Linked DNA regions of Homo sapiens: region 1 is linked to region 2. A link means that fine-mapping ties the variant in region 2 to the expression of a gene that starts in the linked region. Tissue or cell type: whole blood. Region 2 holds a variant in brackets; the other region holds the start of a gene. All regions are shown on one strand. Distances are from middle to middle.

Region 1 (13,048 bases), 41 kb after region 2:
TCAAATATAAAAACACATCATTTTAACAAAGATAAAGGCAAGTTTTAAAGCTAAGGTAAGCTGAACAGCTCTTTTCTTCACTCTATGACTTATTTAGCTATTCATAATCACACAATTGGAACATCAAAATATTTTCTGTCAATGTATGATTCGATTAAATGAAGCAGGGAAAAAAGAAAATCTCACCCCCAATGGTACTCTCTTGAAATTCATGAAATTGGCCTTTCACAAAACGAAGCACTAGGCTTGATTTGCCAACAGCGGACTCTCCCAGAAGTACTAGTTTGAACTGGCATATTTTATTTCCCGTATTTGGCCCGTTGGGTCTTGTTGCGCCTCGACTAGCCATGTCCAAATTTGAAATAAGTCCCTAATTTCAGACTCTTCAATGAACTTCCAGAATTCAAGGGGCCAATATTCTTCTTTCTGGAGGTAAAGAAACCTGTAAAGAAACAATTATGAATTAAATATACAAATCAGTAAAGCAAATTTACTATTAATCACTTTAAATATTGCCTATAGCATGATTATCTTAAACTCTACTAGACCTTCAATGCCCTTTAGATTATGTCACTATCTTTTAAAGGAAATTCAAAGGTATAGGATGTGAGTCCAAAATTACTTTTTTTTTTAAAGGCTAACCTCAAAGCTTCAAGTTTGTGCCAGGCAGTGCTTTAAGTACTTAACTTCTCAACAATCCTATAAAATGAGATATTATTACAATCCTTATAAATGAGGAAACAAGCACAGAGATGTTAAGAAGCTTAATTGAGGTCACACAGTTATTGTCACAGAAGTGACAGAGCCGAGTTTCAAACCCAGGCAACCTGAGAGATGACTCGAGTTCAAGTTCTGTAGCCAGGCTACTTGGATTAACATTGTTTTGAGAAAAATTATGTTATTAATAAATGGGAAACTTTTAGAACAGATCCTAAAATTTAGTATTATTTGAAGTTTTCTGTTAAACGATGCATTTTTCATTTAATTAATGGTAATTTTGGACAACAAATATTTTCAGTCTCCCAGGTTTGTGTGCCTAACGGCAGACTTAAAACTGTTTCCTCATCTGCTCAAGCACACCATACACAGAAATGCTAACAGTTGTTCTCCATGTGGTGATTATTACTGACTTATTTACTTACAATAATTGTAACTTTTTTGTAGTCTTTAGACGAACAATATACATGCCATTTTTAAAAAAATTTTTTTGGAGAAAGGGTTTTGCTCTCTCACCCAGGCTGGAGTGCAGTGGCGTGGTCACAGCTCACTGCAACCTAGACCTCCTGGGCTCAAGCAATCCTCCTGCCTCAACCTCCTGAGTAGCTGAGACTACAGGCGCTCAGAACCATGCCAGGCTAATTTTTTGGTAGAGACACTTAACTGCTATGTTGCCCAGGATGATCCTGAACTCTCGGGCTCAAGCAATCCTCCTGCCTCAGCCTCGCAAAGTGCTGGGATTACAGGTGTGAGCCACCACGCCCAGCCTGCAGGCCATTATTTTTTATTTAAACAACACATTAAAGAAATCTAGCCTGAATGGCGACTTCTATGCTAATTTTTAATCTCTAAGGAATTAGTGAATATTTGAAGAACCTTTTTCAATCCACTCACAAACCAATCTTAACAGTTTCCTTCTATCTTTAATCAAAATCCGAATACATGCTAATATATTAAACCTGATGATTCCCTCTCTAAAAACCCTGCTATATTTCATTTAGCTACCTCATATAAGAAATACGTCTTTCACACTGGACAGAGTGGCTTATACCGGTAAATCCCAACACTTTGGGGGTGAGGCAGGAGGACTCTGAGACCAGCCTGGGCAACACAGTGAGACCCTGTCTCTATATTAAAAACAAAAGAAAGAAATATGCCTTTCCCATAAAATGAGCTTATAATACGCTCTTCATAATGAATTCCCTAACATGTCCACGAGATCTTAGTTCTTAAGGCAATGAAACTACCTCCTTGCCTTAACTAAACACCAGCTTTTTAGAGTCCTTATCTTTTACCATTACATACTGAAATATTTACAGATTTATTGACGTAATATCTGAGTTGCTTCCAAATAACAAGGTATAAATAAAAATGCCCCCTCCTCCACAAACATACCAGATTTAGGGGTGTAATCCTGGCTATACCAATTTCCGTCTGGGCAAACTCTTTAATTTCCAAGTTTCTATTCCCATAATATCTAACTTGCATAGCTGATGTGACAATTAAATAAAACAATACATGTAAACAATCTCTAATATACATAGTAGGGATTGAAATTGCCAATAATGTGCTCCTTTGATAAGAAAATGATAAAATATCAATAGAACATCATATATACTGAAAATGCACCAATACATCTTCAGATATTACACACAATCAAAACATTTTCCATTTGTCTTTTTATTTAAGAAAACAAGAAATTACTTATCAAGGACAATATGCTCCAAATTTCTACGGCACTTCCAAAATTTTAGGGAAAATATCAGACTCCCATTAAAAAAAAAAATCAAACAAGATTCTGATTTCACTTTGACTTTTAAGGTTTAAAGCTACTTAATTGTGGCTACTCCCCCTAAGGATCTCAAACAGGAAATAACTAAAGTTAATGGTAAATATACACTTAGCATAACACTAAGGTTAAAAATTACGTGCATTCATTTGTATTCACTGCTTACTGAAACTTCTGTTTTGCAAAACAAGAATTTTGCATAATATACATTTGTAATCTTTTGAAAATAACTGTTATTCATTCTATAGTTAAAATCCTTCTAAGGGTTCTTTGATCAAAAAATTGACTGGGCACTTATTTTGTGCCAGGCACTGTTCCATTTACTTTGTTTATACAAATGCTGAGTTATCACTTCCATTTTACTTTAGGAATAAAGTTTATGAGCAGTCTTGAGTATTCCCAGAGGTGTACAAGTGTTTTTTTCTTATTATGTGAAAGGCAACTGATTGAACGCTTTGATTCCATTTAAGCAAGACAAAAACCAAGTATGTGAACTATGACGTTCAGAACTTAACAAGTTTGAAAGTCTCAGAGGTAAGCAGCTTCCAGGGAAGATAACGCCAGAGCAAGTTCCATGGTCTCTACCCAGTGAAGGAGTTCAGCGGTCCTGTTATCTTGAATTTATTTAACGCTGTAGTTCACTACCTTCCAAACAGAAAACAAGTCTCTAGACAGCCTATTTTGACGAGCCTCCCACCCACCGACACTACTCATCTTTGGAAGTTGAAGATAGGCGGAGCTCCCCACATTGACACCTGCAGTAGGCCCAGGTTCCTGCTTGGAGAGCACCTGAGTAGCTAATAGCCAACTACAGATCGCCTGGATAAGCAGCACTCGCCAGGTCCCTTGGCCTTTCCAACCTCCTCCCCCGAACCTGCCTTGCTTTGACCGAGACCCCCAGGACTGCCAGGACGGAGACCAGGCGGAACCGCGGCCTCCAGTACACTTTCCACGGCGCCATCTTGAGAAGGGAAAGGGTGACACCCGTCGCTCCCTCAGTCAGTCCCCAAATCCCGGTCTCCAGAGCCCCTGGAGGATGAGTCACCAGGGCTGGCAGAACAAGACGCCGGGTTCGATAGTTCTCTGGTCCAGGGCACTGCTGCGCGTGAGGGAGAAGGGGTGGGGGGTCTCAGTACCGGCAGGGCCGCGGACAGGCTGGGGACCGCGGATAACCTGGGGTCCAGGCCCCCGCTGCGCAGGAGGAGGGGCGGTTCGGTTACCTGAGACCGCAGCAAGCCGAGCTGCGGGGCCGAAGCTTCCTGGCAGCAAGGCCCAGGCGTGGCCCGTAGGATGAGAGTGTATCTATGGCGGTGGTGGTGGCGGCGGCGGCGTCGCCTGCTCTTAGCGCCGCTCCCCTCACACTGGACTGTGCGGGGCTCGTGCCGTGGTGCCGCCCCTGTCGGGCTCCGTCTCCGCCTCTCGCCGCTCCCCCTTCCTCTTTCCTTTCTCCTCCTCCGCCGCCGCCGCCGCCGCCGGCGCTGGAGTTCCGACTAATTCTTCCTCCTCCTCCTCCCTCTGCCTCCTCCCCTAAGGCCAGCCGCCGGCTCCTTCACGAACCAAAACACAAACACTCAAGTCCCACCGCCGGAGCCACTTCCGCTGCCCGGTGCCGGCCCCGCCGCCACGTCGCTGCACGCAGCGAACTGCGCCACTTCGTCACTTCCCATCATCGCCAGTCCGCCTGCTCCTTCCGCTTCCTCGCCCCTTCCCGAATCCCTCCCCGCCTAGGTTTGTTCGCGGGGCGGGGCGAGGCAGGATGTCACGTGACCCTGCGAGTGGCTCAGATCCGAACTGGCCGCCTTTCTCCCCTTCCCCCACCCCAGGTACGCGCGGCCACGCCCTCTCCAGCGCCATTGTTATTTAGGCTGGGGGGTCTCTGGGCTCCTGGCGGCCGGGGTCGGGGGAAATTCCTTTACTATTCTTTGGGGGAAGATCAAAATAACTTGTGTTTTTTTGTTTGTTTTTTGTGCCCAGCCCTTGTGGGAGCGGCGAGGTTCCCTAACCCCAATCCTGGCATCTCGGCTAAGGGGCTTTATTAGAGGGAACTTGTCTAGCACGAGAGAACCTCCTCCCACAAAATGGCCCTGGGGTTGGGTAGGTCGGTAAAGGCTGCTAAATCGCATTTACCCCAAGGAGGAAGAAAGGACCCTCCCTATCCCAAAAGCCGCCTTTAGGCGCCTGACAATAAGAAGTCGCTTCTGTTAAGAGTTTACGTGGTTTTGGTAGGGGGCGGGGAAGGCCAAATCCTAAAATAGTGTCTGCCTTTTATTCAGAATTTCCCTTCGCTCTTTACTGTACTAAACGCTTTACAGGAATTATCCCATTGAATTCTTACACTCGAGTCTTTCATTCTGAAACTAACTTGTTAATCGTCTGTTCCCTACATTCGAATTTTAGCTCCCCTTGGTGGTCCTCACCGCTGTAAATCTATGTCTAGCCCAGTGCCTGGCAGCCAAGTCTTCAGTTCTAGTTGTAGATGTTTTATAGGTAAAGAATTTGAGACACAAGAGATTGAGTAACTTGTCCGAGATCACGGCTGTGTGGTGCAGAAGCTGGATTCTGATCTGCGGCGGGTTGGCTCCAGAACGTGAGTTGTTGAACACAATTCTGGTGAAAGACAACCCAAGATGTTCGTTACCCTCCACGGGGGACCTACTGAAGATGTGCTGCTTTAGTTGAATCCCACACCACATTCAGTCTCTGGCGAGGCTTCAGCCACCACCCCCTCCCCAGCCTCCGCCAAAAAAATTGTTTTGATAATTTAGTGGAAGAATATTAAATTGATTTTCCTTCAGAATAAAGGCTACTTTTCAGTTTGCAGTTTACAATGTATAGCTCTGTTGTAAGGGCGAGAATATTGTCTTTGAAGTGTACCGGGTTAAGGTATCTTATGGGCGTACAGTCGGCGGCATTGTGCAATTAAGATGATTTGAACTTTGAACAGCCCGTCTTTCAGATCAACTACCTAGTTGCCAGAAGAACGTAATGTGTCATACGTAAATGATACCTGTGGCATTTTATTCTCAAGGAGTTGTTCAATATGAACTATTAATCATGGTAATAGCTCTGGGACAATCCCAGGAGGAGTCAGGAAATAGGATATGTGACATCAGTTTTGTCATGTCAACAGTATGCCCAAAACGAAACCTATTCCACTCCAAACCTGCTTCTGCTTAGAGACTGGCATTAACATCCTCCCAGTCACCCAGACTTGGAACTGCAGAATCAGCTTCACCTCTTTCTTCTCCTCACAAACCATTGTCCATTCTATCAACAAATTATCTAATCCCCAAATTTGAAGTCTAATCCCAACACCTGGTCCATGGTAGTGTTTATATAAACTGAAATTAATGCATACTGCTGTTCTTTCTGTCCATTCTTTACATTTTAGCCACTCTACTAAAAAATGTTCAATGCTATGTCATTACTTGACAGTCTAAAGTTCTTTAACTCTAGTCCCAACCCAAGTTTCTTTCATTCTATTTCTATAGAATTCCTCTCCCCATACTCTTTATTTGTTCCCTGATCACACGTATCTGGTCTGTGTTCCCTGAATATTGCCTGTGTGTTGCCATCTTGGTATCTGATCACTTTATTTTCTCCACATGGAACACTATCATTGCCCATAACTGCTGGCTCCGTCTTAGCCAGGACACCAGTTCCTTTGGACCGCATCTGCAGATACTTCTACTGGATTCAATTATTATTTTTTCTGTAATTTCACAATACTTTGCCTTACTCTGTATAATGGCTGTCTTAAAATCTGCCTTATTTTAATAGCTAATGAGCACCTGGACTTTTCTCCTTAGCCTTTCATTGAATTATAAGGTTTTTAAGGGCTGTGACCATCAGTTATTCATCATTTCAGTTCTTCACAGAAGACCCTTGACTGCTATAATAGGGACCCCCAAAGTATTGGTGAACTTAATTACATTTAGAATCACGAACATTAAGAAGACCTCACAATGAAAAACATTTGATGCTGAAATTTATAAATTGCAAAAAACTCCCTATTTCATCGTTCCAGTATGTTGCTTCTTCACTCGTTCCTGTTTAGTGATTTTGTCTTCACCTCCTTCATGAATACTTTTCACAATATTTTACAGTTTAGTCATAATGTTTGCCTGGAAGAGTGCTGCCCTGGTGGCTGGCATTTCTAAAGATCCGGTAGTAGTTTTAGAGAAATTGAAATGACACAGTAAAGCTCTGTTGTTTTATTGCCACTTGCAATATGCCTATGTTTTCTTTTTCATAGCCCCAGATAACTGAGGAGGACTGATAATTGTATATATTTTAGTGTCAAATGTGGAGTCCTACCAGTTGATAGAACTTGTTAAGGAAGGTACAAAATGGATAAATAATCATGAAGACTTAAACACTGTCTTTGATGCTTATACTGCCCTCAAATCTCTAAATACTCAATAACAAATTCCCAGTGGCAGGTGTCTCTCTACCATTCACAGGATCCCATAACCTTTTCCTTCTCTTCCAGGAAATCTGTCCTCCCTTGTGTAGCTAAAGAATGAATCTTTGCATAGATGATAATGAATGGTTACATTTACTTTTAACTGGAACTGTCTGGAGACAATTCAAAATTTTTCCTGGAGACAAACCAACGGTAACTCTAACATTGGCGTAGTAGCAAGTCAGTGAATAAAAGGCTGTGAAAACTTAAGCTAGTCATGTTTCAAAAGCTTGTGTCTTTGGAGGGCATCATTCAGGCTTCAGCTCAAATGTCATCTACCTAAGGGACTTCTAAGCCCACTAATTCTAAATGCTTTGTTACATATCGAAGTAGTCTGTTGTCTTCATAACAGCACTGTTTGATATGATATTATGCATTGTCTTCATAACACTTAGCACCATTTGATATGATATTACGCATCGTTCCACTTAATGGTTATCTATCCCTACTAGAATATAAGCTCCATGAGATAGGGGTTGGGTTATACAGTCAGTCCATCTGCTTGTGATTGGTTCTTGGACACTCCCTTATTCCCCCACCATATGGGTACCAAAATTTGCAGATGCTCTAGTCTCATGTAAAATGGTGTAGTATTTGCATGTAGGCTATTCTGTATGCTTTAAATCATCTTCAGATTACTTACAATAAGTAATACAATGTAAATGATATGTAAATAGTTGTATTTTTTTAATTTGTATTATTTTGTGTTTTTTTCATTTTTTAACTCAAATACTTTCGATGGAATACAGAGGGCTAACTGTATTCCCAACACTGACACAAAATAGGGAGGGACTCAATACCTGTTTGTAGAATGAATGAATGAATTGAATGAGCCCTTACCTGGATTTACATACTGCAAAGTCATTTGAAGAATTTATGGGGATTTATTGAATGCTGTGGCCACTTTTGGGGTTCCTATGTCTTTCTTCAGAATCCAATCCGGCCTACATGCAAACAACCCTGTTTAAAGGACCTGCAGTTGGTATTCATCTTGGCACCATCTACTCTTGTGTGGGTGTTTTCCAGCATGTAAAAATAGAGGTAATTGCCAATGATCAGGGAAATTGAATCACTCCAAGCTATGTCACCTTTACTGATACTGAACAATTGCTCAGTGATGCCACAAAGAATCAAGTTGCAATGAACCCCATGAACACAGTTTTTGATGCCAAATCTGATTGCTGATTGGACACAGACTTGATTATGCTGTTGTCCAGTCTGATATGAAGCATTGGCCCTTCATGGTAGTGAATAATGTTGGCAGGCCCAAGGTCCAAGTAGAATACAAGGGAGAGATAAAAAAAACTTCTGTCCAGAAAGGTGTCCTCTAGGGCCATGGACTGGTACTGGACTGTGGCCTGTTAGGAACTGGCTGCCCAGCAGGAGGTGAGTGGCAGCAAGTCAGTGAAGCTTCATCTGTATTTACAGCTGCTCCCCATCATTCACATTACCACCTGAGCTCCCCCTCCTGTCAGATCAGTGGCAGCATTAGATTCTCATAGGAGTGTGAACTCTATTGTGAATTGCACACACAAGGGATCTAGCACTTCTTATGACAATCTAATGCCTGATGATCTGTCACTCTCTTCCATCACCTCCAGATGGGACCGTCTAGTGGCAGGAAAACAAGTTCAGGGCTCCTACTGATTGTACATTATGGTGAGTTATATAATTATTTCATTATATATTACAATGTAATAATAATATAAAGTGCACAATAAATGTAATGTGCTTGAATTGTCCTAAAACTATCTTCCCCCGATCCTACCCCCTGCAACTTGGTCTGTGGAAAAATTGTCTTCCATGAAACTGGTCCCTGGTGCCAAAAAGGTTGGGGACAGCTGCTCTGTTATTCTGACAAAGATGAAGGAAATGGCAGAAGCCTACCTTGGAAAGAGTGTTACCAATGCTGTGGTCACAATATCAGCTTGGTTTAATGATTCTCAGCATCAAAGCTACCAAAGATGCTGGAACTATTGCTTATCTCAATGTACTGAGAATTATCAATGAGCTAACTGCTGCTTCTATTGCTTATGCCTTAGGCAAAAGGTTGGAGCTCAATGAAATGTGCTGATCTTTGACCTTAGAAGTGGTACTTTTAAATTTTTATTTATTTATTTTCTTGAGATGGATTCTCGCTCTGTCACCCAGGCTGGAGTGGTGCGATCTCGGCTCACTGCAATCTCTGCCTCCCAGGTTCAAGTGATTCTCCTGCCTCAGCCTCCTGAGTAGTTAGGATTACAGGTGCCCACCACCACGCCTGGGTAATTTTTTTTGTATTTTTAGTAGAGACGTGGTTTCACCATGTTGGCCAGGCTGGTCTCAAACACCTGACTTCAGGTGATCTGCCCCCCCTCAGCCTCCCAAAGTGCTGGGATTACAGGTGTGAGCCACTGTTCCTGGCCTTTTTTTTTTTTTTTTGATGGAGTCTCACTCTTGTTGCTCATGCTGGAGTGCAGTGGCGCAATCTTGGCTCACTGCAACCTCTGCCTCCCGGGTTCAAGCGATTCTTGTGCCTCAGCCTCCCGAGTAGCTGGGATTACAGGCATGCACCACCATGCCCAGCTAATTTTCGTATTTTTAGTAGAGACGGGGTTTTTCCATGTTGGCCAGGCTGGTCTTGAACTCTTGACCTCAGGTGATCCGCCTGCCTCAGCCTCCCAAAGTGCTAGGATTACAGGCGTGAGCCATTGCGCTTGACCTGGAAGTGGCACTTTTAATGTGTCAGTCCTCACTGTTGAGGATGGAATCTTTGAGGTGAAATCTACAGCAGGAGACACCCACTTAGGTGGAAAACACTGACAACCAAGTGGTCCACCATTTTATTGCTGAGTTCAAGTACAAGCATACAAAGGACATCAGTGAGAATAAGAGAGCTGTCTGACATCCCCATACTGCTTGTGAACATGCTAAGTACACTCTTTCTTGAGCAGCCAGGCTAGTATTGAGATCCATTTTCTCTATGAATGAATCAATGTCTATACCTCTTACACATGCCCTATTTGAAGAACTGAATGCTGACCTGTTCTGTGACACCTGGACCCTATAGAGAAAGCCCTTCAAGACACCAAACTAGACAAGTCACAGATTCATGATATTTTCCTGGATGGTGGTTCTACTTTTATCCCCAGGATTCAGAAGCTTCTCCAAGACTTTTTCAATGGAAAAGAACTGAATAAGAGCATCAGCCCTAATGAAGCTGTTGCTTATGGTGCAGCTGTCCAAGCAGCCATTCTGTCTGGCAACAAATCTGAAAATGCTCAAGATTTGTTGCTCTTGTATGTCATTCTTCCTTCCCATGGTATTGAAACCGATGGTGTAGTCATGACTGTTCTCATTAAGCATAATACTACCATTCCTTCCAAGCAGACAGACCTTCACTACCTACTCTGACAGGCAGCCTGATGTGCTTATTCAGGTTTATGAAGGTGAGCATGTCATGACCAAGGATAGCAACCTGCTTGGCAAGTTTCAACTCACAGGCATACCTTTGGCACTCCAAGGTGTTCCTCACATTGAAGTCACATTTGATATTGATGCCAATGGCATCTTCAGTGTCTCTGCTGTGCACAAGAGTACAGGAAAAAGAACAAGATTACTGTCACTAATGACAAGGGCCATTTTAGCAAGAAAGACATTAAATGTGTGGTCCAGGAGGCTGAATAGTACAAAGCTGAAGATGAGAAGCAGAGACAGGTGTCATCAAAGAATTCCCTTGAATCCTATGAATTCAACATGGAAGCAACTGTTGAAGATGAGAAACTTCAAGGCAAGATTCACGATGAAGACAAACAGAAGATTCTTGTCAGGCGTAATGAAATTATTAACTGGATAGATAAGAATCAGGCTGTTGAGAAGGAAGAATTTGAACATCAGCAGAAAGAGCTGGAGAGAGTCTGCAATCCCATCATTACAAAGCTCTAGCAGAGTGCAGGAGGAATGCCTAGGGGATTCACTGTTGGTGGATCTCCTCCCTCTGATGGTGCTTTCTCAGGGCCCAACACTGAATAAGCCAGCCCAAGTACAGATGTAGCATTGTTCCACACACTTAAAACACTGAAGGACCCAAATATGTAGCAAATTCTGTGGCAGTTTTTTTTCTTTTTTGATCAGTCAATGTAGTTTAATTTTTCCCAGTCAAAATTTGCCTAAAAAGGCCTGTAATCTCATAAAAAAAGAAGTACATAGAAAGTAAGCCTTTAAAGGAATTGGACAGATCATTCCAAACTGGGGCAGGAAATTGAGTAGTCTTCATGAGGAAGGTGGTGTTTGAGAGATGTCGGAAGATGGCTGAGTCAATAGGGGCAGTGGGCCTTAAACTCCTGTAGAGGAGATACAATCAAATCTATAACACTAAGTTGTTGGAGGGTGCCAGAGTGTCATCCATGCCAGTTCAATATCAATTGTTCGGTTTTACAGTGGTTTATCAAAGCCTTTTTTAGATCAGACCCTGTGCATTCTATTAGAAGGCTTGCTCTTCAAGGAGCATCTAGTTTAGTACACAGACATGGAAACCCACATAGATCATAGTAGGATAAATACTGTTACAAATAAGTTTGAGGTGCTATGGGAGCATGAAAGAGGGAGACCCATGGGCGGGTGCGGTGGTTCACGCCTGTAATCCCAGCACTCTGGGAGGTCGAGGCGGGCGGATCACGAGGTCAGGAGATAGAGACCATCCTGGCTAACACGGTGAAACCCCATCGCTACTAAAAATACAAAAAATTAGCCGGGTGTGGTGGCGGGCGCCTGTAGTCCCAGCTACTCTAGAGGCTGAGGCGGGAGAATGGCGTGAACCCGGGAGGCGGAGCTTGCAGTGAGCCAAGATCGCGCCACTGCACTCCAGCCTGGGCGCGACAGAGTGAGACTCCATCCCAAAAAAAAAAAAAAAAAAAAAAAAAAAAAAGGAGACCCAACCCAGTTTGAGTGGCAAGACGTGCTACTGGGAAGAAGTAATCCCTGGGTTGAGTCTTGAAGAGCATTTACCAGGCAAGGAGGGCAGAGGATGAGTTGGAATAAAGCATTCCAAGCAAGGGGGACAACAGGGGCAAAAGCAGAAAGTCATAAAGTAGGCTGGGCATGTTGACTCGTGCATGTAATCCAGCACTTTGGGAGGCCAAGGCAGGTGGATCACCTGAGGTCAGGAGTTTGAGACCAGCCTGACCAACATGGTGAAACCCTGTCTCTACTGAAAGTACAAAAATTAGCTGGGCATGGTGGCGGGTGCCTGTAGTTTCAGCTACAAGGGAGGCTGAGGCAGGAGAATCGCTTGAGCCCTGGAGACAGAGGTTGCAGTGAGCCAAGATTGTGCCACTGCACTGCAGCCTGGGTGACAGAGTGAGACTCCTTCTCAAAAACAAAACAAAAGCAAACCAGAAAGTCATAAAATAGCCCAGTGTGCGAGTGGAACTACACGCCCTGGGTTGAGCTGTAGTACAGGCCGCAGTAAGGTGGCAAGCGTCAGGGATAAAGCTGAAGAGGTTGGCAGAGACTGGATCACGGAGGTCCAATTTTTGCTTCTGAAGGTTCTCTCTGGCGATCCTTGGGGTGAGGAGAGACTGCAGTGGGCTAACATGAAGGCCAGTGTAAAGGTGATTGCAAGATTCCAGTTAAGATGTAATGAGGTCTAAATCAAGTCTGTGACTGTGAAGATACCAGAGATGTTGACCCACATCTCTTATTTTTTTCCTAACATTTTATGATGAACATTTTCAAACATTCAGAAAATCAAAGTAATTGTACTGTGAACACCCATATATCTACCACCCAGATTCTACAATTAGCATTTTACTACACTTGGCTTTATCACATATGTCCAGCCATGTATCAACACTTTATGCATTTCAAAATTATGAGCATGTGTACACATTCCTTTAAACATTTCATCATGCATGCCATTTACTAGAGTTCAATATGTGAACCTTTTTAAAGTTCAAATATCCATAAAATGAAGTAAATGCAAGCGTCTTAAGAGTATAATTTCATGTTTTGACAAATGTATATACCTGTGTAATCCACATCCCTATTGAGATACGGAACACTACCGTAATCTCAGAAAGTTGCCACATGTCCTTTCC
Region 2 (13,048 bases):
TTTATGTGGACCTTTCTGTCTTCATTCATCACTAATGCGGTATTTGCAGACCTAAGTTGTCTTTCTTCTCTAGATGTGATTGTTTCCATGGGTGTGAAAATGTGTTCATTTGGACTAGTTTAATAAGTTGCTTTTAAAATTATCCCCATCCCTACCGTTTTCCCCTAAAGTCTAATTCAACTCCAGAATCTCCTTCAATTTTGTGCAGGAAAAAAGCCAAATTCTTAACACTGACATTTTATATACCTTCCCTTCCCCTTCTCCGTTTTTTTTGATGGTGGTGCTGAGGAACTCTCACATGCTTACAAACCTGATTCTGAGAACACATTCAACAAATATTTCACACATAGTTGAGACTTGTGCGTAATATAGTTAGGCTTTAGGGGTACAATGGTGAGCAATGAACAATGGACATGAATTTCATGATCACACATCTATAAAACAAAAGGACATTTTGAACATCCAATGAAAGCTAGTTCAACATGAATAAGACTCTTATGCTAACCATTCTTAGGAAGTCACAAAGCTCCTGTCCATGCATAAAATTAAACAAATTCAGCCTCTTTTGCTGAAACTACAGCACTGAAGAAAAACTGGATACAGACTGTTTCCCCTAACCTTATTTACATGCAATCCTAATTTACCTATGCTCCTTTACAATTGTAATTTTTCCTTTCCCCAGTAACTATTTCAATTTTCCCTAAGTTCCAAGTTACCACTGCCTACTATCTTAAGCCTGTAATTCTACTTCGCATTTTCTTATAATTCTTTTATAAATGGGTCTGAAATGAAACATTTTTCATTTCCCCTCAATTTCTTTTGAATAGCCTCTCTACCTGCTTTTCTCTTCTTGGAACACTAAATAAGTGTTCCAAGTGTCTACCTCTTAAATTAGCTTATTGAGTCTCACAATAACTTTGACAACACTGCAGGTGAAAACCTGTTACTTAGTGAAATAAAGTGACCTAATGAAGGCCACATAGACAAAAGTTTGGGGTTAAAGTCTGACTGTCAGGCTCCTAAATCCTTCCACTCCCCATACTGTTTTTCTACACCAAACTGTCCTTATTACCCCTGGCAACGTTGTGCATCCTAGGTGTGTTTTTATTTTTCCTGCTTCACCCATCACGTATATAGGTATGTCTTTTTCTGACCACCACATAAAGTTTCTTTTCCTCTTCTCTCATTCTTTCTTTAAACTCTCTTGTTTTAATCAACACTAAGTCACCTTTCTGGCTTTATCTGAGAAAAATGTTGATATTGCCTACTCAGCTCTAGAAGTCCCTGGTTGGGATTCCAGAGTTCACTCTGTAAGTTTACTGGACTTTTCCTTTTCACAAAAGTTGGTGATAACCCAGTAATTGCAGGAGGCAGCCACATCATTACCCTCTGCATAAGAAACACTGTACCTGACTATGCCACTTTAAAAAGGCTTGAGCATCATCTCCAAGCGGCTCTTTTTAATCCCCAAGATTATTGTTCCTAAACACGTTGCTCTTCCAGTAATCCTGTTCCATTTTTGTTCTGATAACATTTTCTGAAGAGCGCAATCTCTCCAAATACTGAAAGCTGTTACCTTTGTCTAGGAATTCATTTATGCTTAGATTAAAATTGTGTAGTGGTCTTCAACACAGTTCATTGCTTGGTTAGCTGTTCGCATTTCCTCCAAACAGGTGTTACCAATAAACTTTTTCAAAAGTCAAATTGTCCTTTCTCTTAAACTATTGAAGGCTGGTTCCTCTCCACTTCTCCAGACTATGTGGACATAACAGTGATATTTAATAATCTTCCTCTACTTGCAGTGAGCCGAGATCGCGCCACTGCACTCCAGCCTGGGCAACAGAGCAAGACTCCGCAAAAAAAAAAAAAAAAATCTTCCTCTAATTTCCCATCTTCATGGAAACCTTTTGTTCATTATTCTGTTCAAGCTTTCAGTTTAATATAGCACTTGACTTCAAACACCCTGTTTGTAGCTGACAGCATATGCCACTCATTGTTACAAAATGAAACTATTGACTCTGCACATCTAGTTTTTTAGTTCGTTCCATTAGTAGTCTTCCTGATGAATCTCACCCTCTGCTTCCTGGGTTAGATACACAAATAGTTAAGAAACGCTGGCTACTTCTCCTTCACTTTTTCTTTCCTTCATGCACCATTCATACAGGTAAACAATGTGCTGCTGGGTGCAGTGACTGGCACTTGTAATCCCAGCATTTTGGGAAACCAAGCATTTTGGGAGGATCGATTGAGCCCAGGAGTTTGAGACCAGCCCGGGCAACATAGCGAAAGCCTGTCTCTACAAAAAAATGCAGAAATTAGCCAGGTGTGGTGGAACATGCCTTTAGTCCCAGCTCTCGGGAGGCTGAGGTGGGAGGATCACCTGAGCCCAGGGAGGTCAAGGCTGCAGTAAGCCGTGATCATGCCACTGCACTCCAGCCTGGGTGACAGAGTGAAACCCTGTCTCGCATTATCTCCCTTTTTAACAGGTAGAGGAAGAACTGCAACCAGGATTTAATGTCCTTTCTCCTAGAATATTTTATTGTGCTGAATCCAAAGGATGTTCACAAGTAATAAAATGGGCCAACATGGTATGTCCTACTCTGTAGCACAGGAAAAAAAAAAGGCAAATAGTGCATAACGCTACACTTGTCAAGCTCTCTGCAGAGGTAACTAAAATAAAAATAACCTGTTTACCATCCTTCCATTGTAAGTACATATTTCTATTAAATTCTTTTCAAATCACATACTAGGAAAATAATGCTTTTTCTTTTTGCTAAATGGCCTTTGACTTGCCACATGCAAATGAACATTTACAAAGTCAATAGATTTGACTATTGTGAGCCAAACTATGTCCCTTTCGTTTTCAGAGCTATGGCCGTACAATTCGTATGTATGCACACACGTAAAAATTTTTCTCATTTAAGAGGTACTGAACCATATGTACTAACAATTCCATTTACTCAGTTGTCACATTAAGTGCCACTTCATGTTGTCTTGCTGATTCAGTAATAATTTATAATCCAGCAAAAGTCAAGATTTTACTGACTTATGTTCTGCAAAATCTAAGTCGAATAATCAACAGTAAGACAAGTTAACACACAATATTAATAACCAAACTATAAAGAAATGAGGGGCCATATAGCCTTTAGAACTATGTATGTAGTTTCCAAAATGTTTTTCACAAACACCATCTTTTAGTCCCAATCCAGTAGCTCAGCTATTAAAAATTCCTATTATATAAATGAGACAACAGTTTCTGTCTATATCTGACACTAATGCTTTACCAATTTAGGCTTTTTTTGAGTCTCACTCTGTCGCGCAGACTGAAGTGCAGTGATGCGATCTCGACTCACTGCAACCTCTGCCTCCCGGGTTCAAACAATTCTTGTGCCTCAGCCTCCTGAGTAGCTGGGATTACAGGTGTGCACCATCACGCCCGGCTAATTTTTGTATTTAGTAGAGACAGAGTTTCGCCATGTTGGCCAGGCTGGTCTCAAACTCCTGGCCTCAAGTGATCCTCCTGCCTCAGCCTCCCAGAGTGCTGCAATTACAGGCATGAGCCACCACACTGGCCACCAATTTAGGCTTTCCAATTATACCACTATACTAGTTGCATGGACCTCAACCTTTTTTGTTTTTTTTTGAGAGAGTCTTGCTTTGTCACCCAGGCTGGAGTGTAGTGGCGTGACTTCGTATTACTGCAACCTCCACCTCCTGTGTAGAGGCAGTTCTTGTGCCTCAGCCTCCCAAGTAACTGGGATTACAGGTGTGCATGTGCCACCATGCCCTATCGGGGGAACCACCCCCAATATTTCATGTAGGTTCTTTCCTATTTCCCTAAGTGTCCGTCGGTCTCAGAAATAAAGGGAAAGAGTACAGTAAAGACAGAAATTTTAAAGCTGGGTGTCCGGGGGAGACATCACACGTCAGCAGGTTCCGTGATGCCCCCTCAAGCCACAAAACCAGCAAGTTTTTATTAGTGATTTTCAAACGGGAGGGAGTGTACGAATAAGGTGTGGGTCACAGAGATCACATGCTTCACAAGGCAATAAAATATCACAAGGCAAATGGGGGCAGAACGAGATCACAGGACCTGGGTGAAATTAAAATTGCTAATGAAGTTTTGGGCATGCATTGTCATTGATAACATCTTATCAGGAGACAGGGTTTGAGAGCAGACAACAGGTCTAAAATTTACTAGGCGGGAATTTCCTCATCCTAAAAGGCCTGGGGGTGCTACAGGAGACTGGGGCTTATTTCATCCCTTATGTGCAACCGTACAAGAGACATTCCCAGAGAGGCCATTTCAGAGACCTCCCCCTAGGAATGCATTCTCTTTCTCAGGGCTGTTCCTTGCTGAGAAAAAGAATTGAGCGGTATTTCTCCTATTTGCTTTTGTAAGAAGAGAAATATGGCTCTGTTCCGCCTAGCTCTCAGGCAGTGATACCTGATGGTTATCTCCCTTGTTCCCTGAACATCGCTGTTATCCTGCTCTTTTTTCAAGGTGTCCAGATTTCATATTGTTTAAACACACATGGTTTATGAACAATTTGTGCAGTTAACGCAATCATCACAGGGTCCTGAAGCGACATACAACCCCAGCTTACGAAGATGACAGGATTAAGAGATTAAAGACAGACATAAGAAATTATGAGTACTGACTGGGGAAGTGATAAATGTCCATGAAATCTTCACAATTTATGTTCAGAGATTGCAGTAAAGACATGCGTAAGAAATTATAGAAGTATTAACTTGGGGAACTAATAAATGTCCATTAAATCTTCACAATTTATGTTCTTCTGCCATGGCTTCAGCCAGTCCCTCTGTTCAGGGTCCCTGACTTCCCGCAACAACGCCCGACTAATTTTTTTGTGTTTTTAGTAGAGATGGGGCTTTGCCATATTGCCCCAGCTGGTCTCAAACTTCTGGCTTCAAGTGATTTGCCTGCCTCAGCCTCCCAAAGAGTGGCGATTACAGGTGTAAGCCACCATACCTGGCCTTGGACCTCAACCTTCTAAGCCTAAATACGTAAAAAACTGTGGGCCTAGAATTGAACTCCTCCTGCAAGCAACTAAATGATCCCAGGTACAATATCATATTTAAAACCAGAATATTCTATGTAAATTTGGCTTCCTATTCCAGGAATTTTAAATCTCAAAGATGTTATAATATTCAAATATCATTAACCCCATCTCAGAAGTTTAATAACTTTCTATAAATCATAAATGATTTAATATCAAGAAAAACAATATGTAATTATATGTAATTTAAAAAATACGTAATTATATTCCTAAAAACTTGGGGAAAATCAATTTTTCCTAACAAACTAAAAAAATTCAGTGGTTCTTAAAAAATACACCAAAAAAAGTTACAGTAATATATAACCACCCTGCAATCTGTTCAGATCATGTTTAAACTGTAAGATTTCAATGAAGCACACCATCACAGATTCATTTGAACCACGGACAAACTACAATCAACTTTTAAGATTTCAGTTTCCAACCAAAGGGTTTAATGTTGGCTGCCTATTATTCATGTAATACATTAACAACATATTTCTCCACAGGAATGATTTTTTTTTTTTTTTTTGAGGCAGATTTTTGCTCTTGTTGCCCAGGCTGGAGTGCAATGGCATCATCTCAGCTCACCACAACCTCCACCTCCCGGGTTCAAGCAATTCTCCTGCCTCAGCCTCCCAAGTAGCTGAGATTACAGGAACATGGCCACCACGTCCGGCTAATTTTTTGTATTTTTAGTAGAGATGGGGTTTCTCCATGTTGGTCAGGCTGGTCTCGAACGCCTGACCTCAGGTGATCCGCCCACCTCGGCCTCCCAAAGTGCTGGGATTAAAGGCTTGAGCCACCACACCTGGCGGATTGACTTAAATTTTAGAATCTACACATTATAGCAACCTAGTTAAGACTAACATTAATAGTGACATTCTAATTTTTTCATCACCCATGACCTAAGTATATTCAAGTTTTAACTTGTACTGGTTACACAACTGTCATTCTTTTTAAAAAATCAAAGTTTGTGTTTTAAATTGAAAAAGCATTTATCTTAAAAACATTTAAAAATCTCCTAGATGGAATATATGTTGGCTATAAAAAAGTTCAACTCATGACTCTGCAATGTGAGTAATATTAAGTCATTTCATTTCAAAATTTAGAAGTTACTTTGCATTATCTGTAATGTTAATACTAAATGTAATAGTTTTAAACACTAAAAGCTGCTTAACAATGAGGGATAAATTGACCTGTTTGAAATCTGTATTTACTGTA[A/C]ATCATTCAGTAGTGATATATTACACATATTTAAACGTACTTTTACATAGCCTGCTTTCTGTTTAGCATTGAAACACAGAATTTACTAAAGTTAGCAGTAGATTTTGATACAATTGGTTATCTCTAGGATAAAAATTTCTTCTTTTAAAAAATAATCTTTTAGGTAATGTGCAAGCAGTCTTATGCAGAAATGGGAAAGGTTTTTGCCTAACCAAAGAACATACTACACGAAACACAAATGAAAGAAGAAGAATACTTCAGAATGGAGCAGTCATTAGTTCAAATGAACCATACGGGCTTGTAGAGGGGCAAGTAAAAACTACACGAGGACTTGGATTTCATGGAAATCTCAAGCTGAAAAAATCCATTATCCCAGCACCTCAAACTATTTCTGTCCCTATAGATGACCTATGTCAATTCCTTATTGTAGCTACTAATGGACTTTGGGAAGTTTTGGATAAAGAGGAAGTTACTGCCCTGGCAATGACAACATTTCACATGTATAAAGAAACATACTGTCCTATCATACCTAACAAATCACCATCCAAAGGGCCTCTGCTTTTTTCAACCAGTGAACCAAACCTTACTAAATCACAGAGTAATATCCACGTATTGTTTCAGTATAAATCTGTATCTGAAGTACGTGTGTCAACTACAAATTCCAAAGAAAATTTATCCGATTCAAACTATTCTAAATACTGTATTTATAACCCTGAGAATGTAGAAACATTTCCAGCAGAAACGACTCATCGTAAACCTTGCAGTGAAAAAGTAACTGACAGACCAACTAGTGTAAATGATGTGGCAACAAATGAAAAAGAATCAGACACTAAGAGTTTCTATGAAGGCGCAGCTGAGTATGTTAGCCATGAACTTGTAAATGCTGCTTTACTGGCTGGCTCCAGAGACAACATTACAGTTATGGTAATATTTCTCAATGGAAGTGAATATCAGCTTCTGACATAAAAAAATAAAGTTCCAATTATCCAGAGCACCAAAATATAAAGTGATTCTTCAATGATCCAGCTATTAGGATGATTCATCAATACCATGCAAATAATTTTATGAACATAGTAAAGAAAATATAAAAGCGGATACTAGGTCATATAGTATCATTTATATATATTCACTGTTTTATGCCAAAAAAAAGGAAAAGAGAAAAGCCGATACTTGCTTTTTATACCACTTTATTCCAACCTGAGCACCTCAATATAAAACTAAACACTGGTGAACCGTTTTCCTAATTCTGCATTATCATAAATGTACAAGTTCTCCTAGCAGTCCAACACTTAAATAGATTAAATCATCTCTGACACATGGTAGCTTTCATATAATGAAAATACCTAAAATAATTAGTGCAATATACTGAACTGATCAAAATAAAATGAACTTTGGAAAGGAAGGCTGCAAGATTGTTACTAACATATTGCAATACTTTATGTTACAAATTACGGGTACATTGTTTATTATGGTTCTAGCCATGGAGGAACAACTGAAGCCCCTTCCTGTCAAAGGGGGAGAGAGAAATAATTAGCTGTTTTAGTAACAGTACATTTTGTATGCTTTTAAGCAACTCTTAAATATTACAGAAAAGTAATACAGATATGGAGACTACAATGCAGTACCCTATTTACAGTACAGCTGAAGATCGAATTTAAAATAATCAAGTTTGAATATACATAATTGTTAGTGCATTGACTATATTATGTCAAAAGGGAACAAAAGCCCCCTCCCCACCCCAAACAACAAAACCTGTGTAATGGCCAGCGGTGATTAATTAGAAATCACAGACACCTGGTTTATTTCATTTTTGTTAAAGAACTCACATGTTTGAAAGGAACACTGACCATTAAGGTGCATTTATTAGTTCTCAAAATTCCTAAAACAAGATGGGGTTGCATTTGATTTTTACCCCATTTAAAAAAAAAAAACCAGACTGGGTATAATTAAGATACCATTAATACTCTTCCCCACCCCTGACCTTGTATATGTGGGATTATTTTCTTGTGGTTAATTTATTAAAATGTGGAATGTACATTTTAAATACAGGTACCAGGAGAAATGAACATTTGCCTGAATACTATGGCTAAGCATCATAAATAACTTTAGAATCTCCTTCTAAACAAAGAATGTTTTTGAAAAGCCCAAATTAGTAAGTTCCAATTTTTTTTTCACAGGTGACTACTGTACCAGTGTGGAGAAATGGGCTGGTTAACTGTGTGGGCCCAGACAGTCATTTGTCTATATTCCTAGTGATGAGAAATTATTCCCCCTAACCTTCCAATGAAACAAGTGTCCACATAGTTCTCATTTTTCCCTATTGTTGAAACATTAGTGAGAGGGACCCATGCATGTTATTAAAAATTAAGTTCAAAACACTTAAAATAATTCTGTATTAGAAACTTGACTCTATCATAAGTCTCTTCTTTTGGAAGTCATACTGGGCTGGTTAAATGCTCCAATTCCATTGTTATTAACATTTAGGAAGCAGAAGACTATTCCAGCTAGTTCAAACTAGAGGTTTAGTTACTACAACACTGATTCCTGGTTGGTTGTGTGGGTTCGGTAAGGTCTACTCCTCTTCCTCTGGCAGAATTTGCTCCTGGATTTTGTGGTTCATTCTTTGGCAATTTTTTAGCTGAAAGAAAATGATCAAATAAATAGAATATTTGAATACTCATATTAATATCAGTTTCACCTGCTTATCTATAATTTTTCTTTCCAGTTAGGTTACCCCCAAAGTATCATATAACCATATGTTCATTCTTTTCAAATGTTTACTGAGTATTGAATGCCAAAATATTGGTTGCTGTCTTAGGGAGTTTGATTTCTGGGGTAATTGTGTTGGGGGAACGGTAGATGGGGACTGGTTGTAGATACAATTAAAACTTAAGCCTAACTAGTGCTTTATGTAATTCTCTATACCGATTCACTCAATAATACCAGAAAAGTTCTATTTTATTTTATACTCATTATTACTTCTTTTTTTTTTTTTTTTTTGAGATGTAGTCTCACTCTGTCACCCAGGCTCACCTAGGCTGGAGTGCAATGGCGTGATCTCAGTTCACTGCAACCTCCACCTCCTGGGTTCAAGTGATTCTCGTGCCTTGGCCTCTCGAGTAGCTGGAATTACAGGCATGCCCCACCACACCCAGCTAATTTTTGTTTTTTAGTAGAGACGGGGTTTCACCATGTTGCCCAGGCTGATCTTGAACTCCTGACCTCAGGTGATCCACCTGCTTCAGCCTCCCAAAGTGTTGGGATTATAGGCGTGAGCCATGGCACCTGGCCTCATTATTACTTCTATTAAATAAAATCTAAGTCAATAAAGATGATGGCCAGCCAGTAAGTTTATAAAGAAGCTCAGCTCATATCAGCGTTCTCTAGACTGCCACAAACATTTTTTAGAACAAGTCAGGATACAAATACCTTTGCAATCATCACCCCAACAAAACTTGTCCTCTACTGTGCAACTAATTATCACCCCGAATTGTGATAGATCATATCTACTATTTCCTTCCTGGCTTCCACAGCCTTTGGCCTTAAAACATCTATATACATGCTCTCTTTTTTTTTTTTTTTAAGAGACAAGGTCTCACTCTGTCACCCAGGATTAAGTGCAGTGGTATGATCATGGCTTACTGCAGTCCTGAGTTCCAAAGTGAGATGGGGTCTCACTTTGTTGCCTAGGCTGGTCTTGAACTCTTGGGCTCAAGCAACTCTTCCGCCTCAGACTCCCACGTGCTGGGACTGCAAGCATGAGCCACCATGCTCGACCGCTTAGTTTTTAAAAGAGAAACTTACACCTTGCAGAGTAACCATCAGCTGCCTTCAAATAAAGGGGAAATAGATAAGAGTTGCATTTTTGAGAATGAACAATTATAATCTATGCTTTGGGCAAAGGAAGGACAGATAACACCCAAGTTAGATGCCTGCATGTGTCAAAACTTAGCATACTGGAGGAAACATACTCACACACAAACATACCTTAGCATGCTAGTGGAAATACACTTAGACACAAACATATCCACATACATTTATACATACTCAACACTTCGTTGTGATCTTAGTTTGAATGTAGCCTGCAGCCATACTTCTTTTCATTTTGGAGACAAGGTCTCCCTCTGTAGCCCAAGTTAGAGTGTGGTGCATCAATCATAGCTCACTGCAGCCTTGAACTCCTGGGCTCAAAAGATCCTCCCACCTCAGCTTTCCAAGTAGCTGAGACTACAGGGTGTGCACCACCATGCCTGGCTTTTTTTTTTTGGTAGAGATAGGGTCTTGCTCTGTTGCCCAGGCTGGTCTAGAACTCCTGGCCTTGAAGATCATCCCACCGTGGCCTCTCAAAGTATTGGGATTATAGGAGTGAGCCACCTCAACCAACCTCATTTTCTCCTTTTATGGGCTGATGAATCCTAATCTGACTGACCAGTAGCTGTACCTAATCCAGATAGAATTATCCTGAAGACCTCATCTCCAAAAACTATTTCTTAATTTTATTTGAGTCCGATGAGTGTGGCTTGTCAAATTCAGACAACACTCTCAACCAGCAGTTACGGCTTTACCTCTGCCAAGCTCTATACAGCTAGTGGCTGTTCTCTGGAGTGTGCTTCCCACTGATTAAAAAAACTTACCTGCTGGATATACAGATGCTCCTTGACTTACAATGGGGCTACATCCTGATATATCCATCCTAAGTTGTATGTTTTTGATTTATGATTTTTTTTTTTTTGAGGCGGAGTCTCGCTCTGTCACCCAGGCTGGAGTGCAGTGGCACGATCTCAGCTCGCTACAACCTCTGCCTCCTGGGTTCAAGCAATTCCCCTGCCTCAGCCTCCCAAGTAGCTGGGACTACAGGCACATACCACCACACCCAGCTAATTTTTCTATTTTTAGTAGAGACGGGGTTTCGACATGTTGGCCCGGCTTGTTTCCTGACCAACTCCTGACCTCAGGTGATAGCCCGCCTTGGCCTCCCAAAGTGCTGGGATTACAGGTAGTGAGCCACTGCGCCCAGCCTGATTTATGATATTTTTAATTTATGATGGGTTTCTGTATGTAATCCCGTAGTAAGTTAAGAATGTACTAAATGCATATCACTTTCACCCCATCGAGTTATAAAATCGTAAGTCAAACCACTGTAAAGTTGGAGATTGCTGTAGTTTGTTTTAATACATAAGATCCTTGATGTGCTAAATTCATTTTTTGAGGGGAGGCAGAATATTAAAGATGACTAAGAGTACTGATTTTAAGAGTGGCTGCACACACTGATCTCTATCAATCTTGGGGACAGACCACTATGGTAAGACTCTAACTTTACCATAGCTTTGACTCAGGTTACTCAGAAATTGAATACACTCTGCTTTGAGATCGGATTGCCTAGTTGCATTGTGAACCTTTTATCCTTTATTTGTTCTACACATTCCATTCTACATCAGCATCAATCATTTTTAGAATCCTAGATGCTGGGTTGGGCAATGGATTTGGGAGCCAGGAGCACTGAAGTTTGGAAAGAAAGCCTTCAATTGGGCCACTTCTCTGGGACTGGCTCTGGGCTGGTAGCATAAATAGCATTATAATGGTAAATCTCCAGTCAAATGTATTTACAAGCAAAGCCCCAGAAATGTTGAACACTGGTACCTGGGACACAAAATAGCACTATATATTGTATATAATAACAACTTAGGTTCCAGATTGAGTAATCAATCATGTATCCCTTTAGCATGTTCCCTAAGTGTTTAAATCAGAGGTGAGTGAGATTAAGAGGATGAAGGAGGTAAACTAGAACGAGTAACTTTTTAGTCCTTGCATTGATTAGAGTTGTTATGAGTGCACTGTGTGATTTAAGTTACTAATCTATCAAAGTGTTCCTTCATAACAAAAAAAAAAAGAAAAAAAAATTTACTAACCTAGTGAAGGAAATGGAAAGGCCACAATTCCATTTACAACATAGATTTTCTTTTAAGAAGTGCAACATTCTGATTTCAGAAAAAAACAAAAAACTAAAATATGTAGGCTGCTTTCTAACTCGAAAAATGACTTTATTAGCATGTTTGAATAAAAAGGTACAAACTAAAGCCCATCTGGTAGAGTTTAAATATTGTGAGAAAGGTTTACAGTGCAGGCTGATTTGAGAGGCCTATTAACTCATTGTTTCCTCTAACTTTTCAGATGTGATTCTGGGTGTCATCTGTCACATTTGTAAAATGAGTATATTATCACACAATCCTTCGCAACTGTGCCAGCACTTCCCTAGCAAACTGCAAACTTGAGTTTTTCAGGAAAACAGTTTACATGAGAAAAGGCAAGTTCTTTCCCATTTCGAATGAAGTACCATTAAACTCTGTCACCTAGTGAAAAATAATAAAAATACTTGCAACTTTTACTGGGTTTTCATTATTCTCTGATTCAGCTATTAACTATTTATGAGTTCAATTTAAGAATATTTCTTACTTGGGGTTAGGACTGTGAACACCCCAGTTAAGAATCAGTGCTGTAAAATAAAAGGTGTTATGGGATGAGAAGAGTGCTGGGCACATGAAAACCACAGACGGCAAACTTTGAGAACCACCAAAACAGACCCTTCAGGTAGAATCTATACATTAAAACCACTGGAAAGAGGAAAGGGTTAAAAAAAAAATCCAAAACCAAAAAACAAAACCAACCTTTATTTTTGTTATAGAAAAAAGGAGGCTTATTACTACTCCAACTTCATTACTTATAACTGAAACAGCAATTACCATCAGTTAAAAGTACCTTAGGGCCAG

The links. PIP is the estimated chance that this variant, and not a neighbour inherited with it, causes the effect.
Region 1: RAB5A starts here. The variant in region 2 is fine-mapped to the expression of RAB5A in whole blood (INTERVAL, PIP above 0.99).

The regions. Positions count from the first base shown.
Region 1 is chr3:19,938,200-19,951,247 of GRCh38, reverse strand. RAB5A (RAB5A, member RAS oncogene family) reads right to left here and starts at 4,151. Exons shown (of 6, transcript NM_004162.5): 1 at 3,727-4,151; 2 at 187-442. The coding sequence starts at 349. It also overlaps a transcript of EFHB not described here and the pseudogene HSPA8P18. RefSeq lists enhancers at 2,867-3,466, 3,513-3,562, 4,083-4,132, 3,994-4,163, 4,089-4,258 and 1 more.
Region 2 is chr3:19,979,579-19,992,626 of GRCh38, reverse strand. It overlaps RAB5A (RAB5A, member RAS oncogene family), which reads right to left. Exons shown (of 6, transcript NM_004162.5): 6 at 7,452-8,919. The coding sequence ends at 8,804. It overlaps PP2D1 (protein phosphatase 2C like domain containing 1), which reads left to right. Exons shown (of 3, transcript NM_001252657.2): 3 at 6,445-7,281. The coding sequence ends at 7,247. Among named protein-coding and RNA genes, the nearest start is that of PP2D1, 26 kb to the left of the region's middle. The variant A/C (reference allele first, on the strand shown) is at 6,282.